Homo sapiens: one gene and its partner. Each later gene encodes a partner of the first gene's protein in a complex. Each region holds a gene or a part of one and is shown on either strand. Other genes may lie near its edges.

The links.
Region 2: the proteins of PELI1 (region 1) and MDC1 are in contact, whole or in part, in a crystal structure (PDB 9IF9), measured with the Homo sapiens proteins. Residues at the interface, in NP_065702.2 of Homo sapiens: Arg104, Ser105, Thr106, Glu107, Thr115, Asp116, Val130, Gln131, Ser132, Thr133, Ile134, Ser135, Arg136, Phe137, Thr185, Asn186, Thr221, Arg222, Ser223, Ala224, Cys247; in NP_055456.2 of Homo sapiens: Glu761, Asp762, Ser763, Glu764, Thr765, Gln766, Pro767, Phe768, Asp769.

Annotation. Positions count from the first base shown.
Region 1 is NC_000002.12:64,142,436-64,146,183, reverse strand, and holds the start of PELI1 (E3 ubiquitin-protein ligase pellino homolog 1), read left to right. Parts: upstream 1-1,763; 5' UTR 1,764-2,103; intron 2,104-2,657; exon of another isoform or gene 2,658-2,866; intron 2,867-3,748. UniProt on the Homo sapiens protein: E3 ubiquitin ligase catalyzing the covalent attachment of ubiquitin moieties onto substrate proteins. Involved in the TLR and IL-1 signaling pathways via interaction with the complex containing IRAK kinases and TRAF6.
Region 2 is NC_000006.12:30,710,561-30,714,308, reverse strand, and holds part of MDC1 (mediator of DNA damage checkpoint protein 1), read left to right. Parts: intron 1-125; coding exon 126-506; intron 507-591; coding exon 592-661; intron 662-954; coding exon 955-2,435; intron 2,436-2,582; coding exon 2,583-2,642; intron 2,643-2,804; coding exon 2,805-2,897; intron 2,898-3,748. UniProt on the Homo sapiens protein: Histone reader protein required for checkpoint-mediated cell cycle arrest in response to DNA damage within both the S phase and G2/M phases of the cell cycle.

The DNA of each region.
Region 1 (3,748 bases):
ATGGTTTTTTCCCCTGTAATACTGTAACAGGTCCCATACATACCACACTCCATAGAGTGATCTTTCTAAAATGCCTATCTTATCAAAATTCCATCTGCTTACAATCCTTGTGTGGCTTCCCATTGTTTCCAGGAAAAGGTTCATGTTCCTTAGCATATTGTGCAAGATTCTTCATTACCTAAGCTGTCTCCCTTACCTTTTTCAGTGTCTCCTCTTGCCACTCCCCCAACTCCATTCTACTGCCAGCAATGCAACTATTTGCTGAACCAAAATACGTTTGGGTCTCACACCTTTAGGTATTTGTGCTTGATGCTCTCCCCAACACCACCCCCAATGCTCTCACCCACCTCTCTCTTCCTCCTCCCCTACCAAAATACACAAACATGTTAATTCCTAGTTATCTCAAGTGATCTTTGAAGCATTTCCTGATTTTGCCCACATCTGTGGGTAGCTTTGCATTTTCCTATTGTAGTACTTCTCAAATTAAGTCTATTTACCTGTCTCCTCCTTTGCATAGTAAGCACTCTGAAAATAAGAATGTTTCTTTTACATTTTTGTATCTCTATTTCTGGGGCTCAAAACAGTGCCTAGCACAAGTAGACACTCAACAAGCATTTTTTGAATGAGTGTATAATTATATAGTCTGTAGATATAAGGATTTCTGATCTTGAGACTCTCTGAAAGCCTTGCTCCAAAAGTGTGTCTGATTCCTAAGCATTAATCTTTTTCTTCCAGGGTGTGGGGTTCTAGGTAGGTGGAGAAGGAAAACAAAAGCGCTCAGGACGCGTTGCCTTTAGCTCTCCGGAGAGCCAGTAATGTGTCCTGCCTTTCTCCACCCTCCTCCCTACCACCTTTCCACACCTGGGTGCCCAAGATGGGTGTAGACTTAGCTGACCAGCCCAACAACATACTCATACCTTGGTTCAGACTTCTCTTATTACCAAACTAAAGTTGGCCAATACACATAAACAATTTTCAACTTGTCTTTTGAACGTATACTTTATGAAATTTGTATGTCTTAAAAATTGTAGGCCTTAAAATGAACGAACCCGGATTCTTTTATAGTAATCAAGTAAAATATAGGGGTCTTAATTCTGTACTTTGCCTTTGCTAATCTTAAAGTTAGATGTGACTAACTGAGCAAAGTAATTAATTACGGGACTTTGATAGTGGTGATATTCCTAAGTTTTATAACCTAATTGTTCAATTACTGGAAACAACTACATTTCGACAAGTCTTAGGTAAAGAAAATTGAATTTAGCCGGAGAAGATTCAATTGAGGGAAGTGAGGGACAGAGGTATTTGTGATTTAGGGTTTGTGGAAGATAAATTACGCAGCAGGGAAGACTGAAATATGGAGAGAAAGTCAGACCTCACTGGGTACTTATGACTGGTAAGGCTAGGAGTTGGAGGTGGAGAAAAGTAGGAAGGACCGTCTAAGGGTTGGATCCCCAACAACACCATAATACAAGACCGTCCTTGTTCAGCCAACAGCAGCACTGAACACGTTCGCTAAGTGTGTCGGTGACCATGGTAACGGTGGGAGGGGGCGGTCCAAACCTCGCCCTCGAGCATGCTCAGTGCAGAGCGAGCCTGGTAGGGTGCTGGACAACAATGAATCCCTTTTTTCTTCAACCGGAGAACTACAATTCCCAAGAGCCTTCTCGGTGCGGCGACACCGCCTTCCGCTGTGGCCCTGCCCGGTCCCCTCCCTCAGGCCCCGCCCCCCGGCTAGACCCCTCCCCTCCTTGCGAGTGTATGTCAGTGACCCAGAGGCGGTGTGAGGCGGAGGGACCGTCGGGGGGCGCCGCCGCCGCCTCCACTAGCAGCAGCGGCAGCAGCCCTAGTCCCGCGGTGCGGTCGAATTGGTCCCCAGCCCTCCGGGAGCGCACCACAAAGCAGCCCCAACGCCTCTCCCTGCGTCCGCGGCTCCTCAGCGCTCGGCTCCGTGGTCAACTTCCCCTCGCTGGGCTCGGCTGGCGGGCGCGGAGGGCAGCGGCGGAACGGCGGGCTGTCTGCTCGCGCTCCCCGCGCACAACACTTCACCCTCTCGCCTCGGGTCTCGGGGGCCGCTCTGGGATCCCGGCCACCAGCAATTGTCCGGTAAGTGTGACCGCGGGGCGCCGCGGGATGGATGGCGGCGGGGCCGCCGAGGGGCGCGGGGAGGGCGGGCGCGCAACTTCCTCGGCGGCTTCCCCGGCGGCCAGCAGCCGGCTCTCCCCGCCCGCCTGCGCGCCCCCGCTGCGGCGGGGAGCGGAGTTTGCGGCGCCTGCATCCCGCGCCCTGGCTCGAGGAAGCGCCTTTGTCAGGAACCGGCCCTACGCGGCCTCCCCCTCCGCCCGGGAGCGGGGCGCGCGGCGGCCAACTCCGAGCCCCGCGCCTGGCTGGCCGCGCGCTCCGGCTGCGAGAGGGGAGCTCTGCGGGTGGCGGGGAGGAGAGGGAAATGGGAGAAACAAAAGGGGCGGTGGGTTTCCCTTTTGTTTGTGCGGATCTGATAACTTCTTTTCCTCCCTTACATAACGCAGACTTCAAGTTAGTCATTCTTTTTATTGTTATGATTGTTGTCATCATCTCTGCGCGTCTTTCACATTTCCTTTCATCTTTGGATCTCAGAGCATTTTAAACACGCTAATTAATTTCACCCCCGGGTCCCCTAGGAAACAAGTTAATACGCCCGTTTCCCTAAGTGGGTAAACTGAGGTCGTGAAAAGCTCTCAAATTGATGGATACGCTTGATCTTCTACCGCGCCTCGTGTCTGAGTATATGAAAGCGTTTATGAGGAAGAACCCGTTCTCCAAAGCCCCGTGGAAAAGTTAAAGATGCTCATTTTACTTACAGGTTAACTGAAGTCCAAAAGATGTCTAGGTAATTGTTACGTAGTTCAAACCATAATTCTTCTTACATAGTGTTTGAATCTTAAAACCTCTAAAGACTTAGTGAAAAATGCTCCGAGTAGGGAAATTAATGTAAATCATAAACTCACGTCACCATCTACTTTTATTTTTGTACGTGCAGGTCTGTTAGAGGCAAGAGAGCAAGAAGGGGACAGAGGGCAGAGGTTTTTTAAAAATGTACATTTAACAGATTTTAATCACTACACACAAGGAAATGTGCCTTGGTTTTAACAGCACCAACAATATTCCTGTCGTTTAGTCATCAAACAGTATATCAACAAATGTTATTGAGAACTTTATTCATAAGGTGCTGGTTGTGCTAAAAACTGAAGCTTTATATATAAGAAAAGGTCATCTGTTTCGGTTCACAGGCTCTTTACTTTTTCTTACTCTGCAAAATGTTACTTTGTTTTCATTGCACATGATCTTTTGTTTCAGAAATGGCATTGTCCTTTACTGTGTCGAATATGTATTACTCTTACACTTAAGGATAAATGAATTTATTATTAAGTTTTCATAATAGGGTGAATTTAAAATATTTTAATTGTGGTAAAGGTTCACTTTATTCAGTTCTGTTTCAGTTTACGATGCGTTTTCTTTATAGCCAACAAAATATTTTCTGAGTGATAAGATTTACATGTCTCAAAACATTGTTCTTAGTGTACAAATACAGCATATGAATTCCTTGTTTTTTTTATTTATACCAACAACCTCTTCTGGGGAAAAGTCTTTAACTCTGAGGACCTTATTTATTTTGTGAGTTTTTATTTCTTCGGTACCATACTGGAAAGCACCAAAAATTTAAACCAAGCATCACTTCTACTAGCTCTTTCCTCAGGTAAATAATAATCAG
Region 2 (3,748 bases), on another chromosome or scaffold:
GGGCCTTTTATTTTTCTAATGCATATGGAGGCCTTGAGTGAGTAGTAGAGTACCTAATAGGCACTTTTTCCTAATGACAGGCCAGGACTCTGATCTTGGAGCTTATCTACCTCTCTAATTCTTAGATTTCCCACTACACCTCGGGAAGAATGTGGTAGGCCGAATGCCTGACTGCTCTGTGGCCCTGCCCTTTCCATCTATCTCCAAACAACATGCAGAGATTGAAATCTTAGCCTGGGACAAGGCACCTATCCTCCGAGACTGTGGGAGCCTTAATGGTACTCAAATCCTGAGACCTCCTAAGGTTTTGAGCCCTGGGGTGAGTCACCGTCTGAGGGACCAGGAATTGATTCTCTTTGCTGACTTGCTCTGCCAGTACCATCGCCTGGATGTCTCTCTGCCCTTTGTCTCCCGGGGCCCTCTGACAGTAGAAGAGACACCCAGAGTACAGGGAGAAACTCAACCCCAGAGGCTTCTGTTGGCTGAGGACTCGGAGGAGGAAGTAGGTAAGTTTGTATATTGGCAGGGAGAATGAGGAGACAGGAATAATGAGTGTACAATTGTCAACTCATTCCTTTCTGTTCTTGACAGATTTTCTTTCTGAAAGGCGTATGGTAAAAAAATCAAGGACCACATCTTCCTCTGTGATAGTTCCAGAGAGGTGAGTGCCAAAGAGTCAGACACCTGAGTCTTCAAAATGAGGAAGAACCAGGGGCTGGAGGATCAATCTCTAAAAGAGATGATTATCATGAGAGTTGGGGCTGGGGAACCATACATATTCATTCACTCAGCTGAATTTTTATGGAGCACATCTGATGTGCCAAGTGGAAAACAAATTGGAAACAGAAGAAGAAATATGCTACCTTGTGTCTCCCCTCAAGGAGCTCACAGTTGAGTTGGGGTATCCCTTCCAGGGAAATAAATTCTATAGACTCTCTTTTCTTCCCTTCACAGTGATGAAGAGGGGCATTCCCCGGTCCTGGGCGGCCTTGGGCCGCCTTTTGCCTTCAATTTGAACAGTGACACAGATGTGGAAGAAGGTCAGCAACCAGCCACAGAGGAGGCCTCCTCAGCTGCCAGAAGAGGTGCCACTGTAGAGGCAAAGCAGTCTGAAGCTGAAGTTGTAACTGAAATCCAGCTTGAAAAGGATCAGCCTTTAGTGAAGGAGAGGGACAATGATACAAAAGTCAAGAGGGGTGCAGGGAATGGGGTGGTTCCAGCTGGGGTGATTCTGGAGAGGAGCCAACCTCCTGGAGAGGACAGTGACACAGATGTGGATGATGACAGCAGGCCTCCTGGAAGGCCAGCTGAGGTCCATTTGGAAAGGGCTCAGCCTTTTGGCTTCATCGACAGCGACACTGATGCGGAAGAAGAGAGGATCCCAGCAACCCCAGTTGTCATTCCTATGAAGAAGAGGAAGATCTTCCATGGAGTAGGTACAAGGGGTCCTGGAGCACCAGGCCTGGCCCATCTGCAGGAGAGCCAGGCTGGTAGTGATACAGATGTGGAAGAAGGCAAGGCCCCACAGGCTGTCCCTCTGGAGAAAAGCCAAGCTTCCATGGTTATCAACAGCGATACAGATGACGAGGAAGAAGTCTCAGCAGCGCTGACTTTGGCACATCTGAAAGAGAGCCAGCCTGCTATATGGAACAGAGATGCAGAAGAGGACATGCCCCAACGTGTGGTCCTTCTGCAGCGAAGCCAAACCACCACTGAGAGAGACAGTGACACAGACGTGGAGGAGGAAGAGCTCCCAGTGGAAAATAGAGAAGCTGTCCTCAAGGATCACACAAAGATTAGAGCCCTTGTTAGAGCACATTCAGAAAAGGACCAACCTCCTTTTGGGGACAGTGATGACAGTGTGGAAGCAGATAAGAGCTCACCTGGGATCCACCTGGAGAGAAGCCAAGCCTCCACCACAGTGGACATCAACACACAAGTGGAGAAGGAAGTCCCGCCAGGGTCAGCCATTATACATATAAAGAAGCATCAGGTGTCTGTGGAGGGGACAAATCAAACAGATGTGAAAGCAGTTGGGGGACCAGCAAAGCTGCTTGTGGTATCTCTAGAGGAAGCCTGGCCTCTGCATGGGGACTGTGAAACAGATGCAGAGGAGGGCACCTCCCTAACAGCCTCAGTAGTTGCAGATGTAAGAAAGAGCCAGCTTCCAGCAGAAGGGGATGCTGGGGCAGAGTGGGCTGCAGCTGTTCTTAAGCAGGAGAGAGCTCATGAGGTGGGGGCCCAGGGTGGGCCACCTGTGGCACAAGTGGAGCAGGACCTCCCTATCTCAAGAGAGAACCTCACAGATCTGGTGGTGGACACAGACACTCTAGGGGAATCCACCCAGCCACAGAGAGAGGGAGCCCAGGTCCCCACAGGAAGGGAGAGAGAACAACATGTGGGTGGGACCAAGGACTCTGAAGACAACTATGGTGGTAAGTGCTGGCCTTCCTTCCTAGACCTCTGAAATCAACCAGGGTTCTAACAGCTGGGGTTGGGGAGAGAAAGGTAGAGATTATTTAAGGAGTTTAGTGTCAGGTATGATTTTTGTTTTAAACTGTCTTATATTCCTCCCCGACCAGATTCTGAAGATCTGGACCTACAAGCTACCCAGTGCTTTCTGGAGAATCAGGGCCTGGAAGGTGAGGACTTCTGTGTTATTTGAATCCTGTACCAGTGGGAGCTGGGAGATTAGACTGGTGGTCCTTGAAGGGTAAAGGCTAGTATGGGTAGGGTAGGAGACCAGGAATGGAACCCTACAGTAGTATGGAGGAGATGAACTTAGGCCATCTTTTCCTGTACAGCAGTCCAGAGCATGGAGGATGAACCTACCCAGGCCTTCATGTTGACTCCACCCCAAGAGCTTGGCCCTTCCCATTGCAGCTTCCAGACAACAGGTATAAGAAACTCTTCCCTCCTCTGTGTCCCCAATTCTGCATTCTCTTTTTTTTCCTCTGTCACTCAGGCTGGATTACAGTGGTGCAGTCTCGGCTCACTGTAACCTCCGCCTCCCAGGCGGTTTCTCTTCCTTCAGCTTCCCAGGTAGCTGGGATTACAGCTGTCCATGACCATGCCTGGCTAATTTTTTGTATGTTTAGTAGAGACAGGGTTTCACCATGTTGGCCAGGCTGGTCACAAACTCCCGACCTCAAGTGATCCGCCTGCCTCGGCCTCCCAAAATGCTGGAATTGCAGGCGTAAGCCACTGCGCCCGGCCTGCGTTCTTTCTTGATTTGCCTTCCTACATGTTTCTTTCATACTCTGATTACAGTGAGCCCTCTGTGTATGCGAGTTTGCGTCCGTGAATTCAACCAGCTGCAGGTTGAAAATATTTAGGGACTGGCCTGGGCAACAGAGAGAGACCTGGTCTCCACAAAAATGAAAAAATTAGCCCAGCATAGTAGTGAGCACCTGTAGTCCCAGTTACATGGGAGGCCAGGATGGGAAGATCAGTTGAGCCCAGTCTGGGCAATAGCCCATCCCTCAACCCCCACCCCCAATGTCTCTTAAAAAAAACACACACACACTATTGCAGCACTGTTCACAATAGGCAGATATGAAATCAAACTAAATGTCCATCAACAGATGAATGGATAAAGAAAATGTAGGCCGGGGTCGGGCACAGTGGCTCACACCTCTAATCCCAACACTTTGGGAGGCCAAGGCAGGCAGATCACCTGAGATCGGGAGCTTGAGACCAGCCTGACCAACATGGAGAAACCCCGTCTCTACTAAAAATACAAAATTAG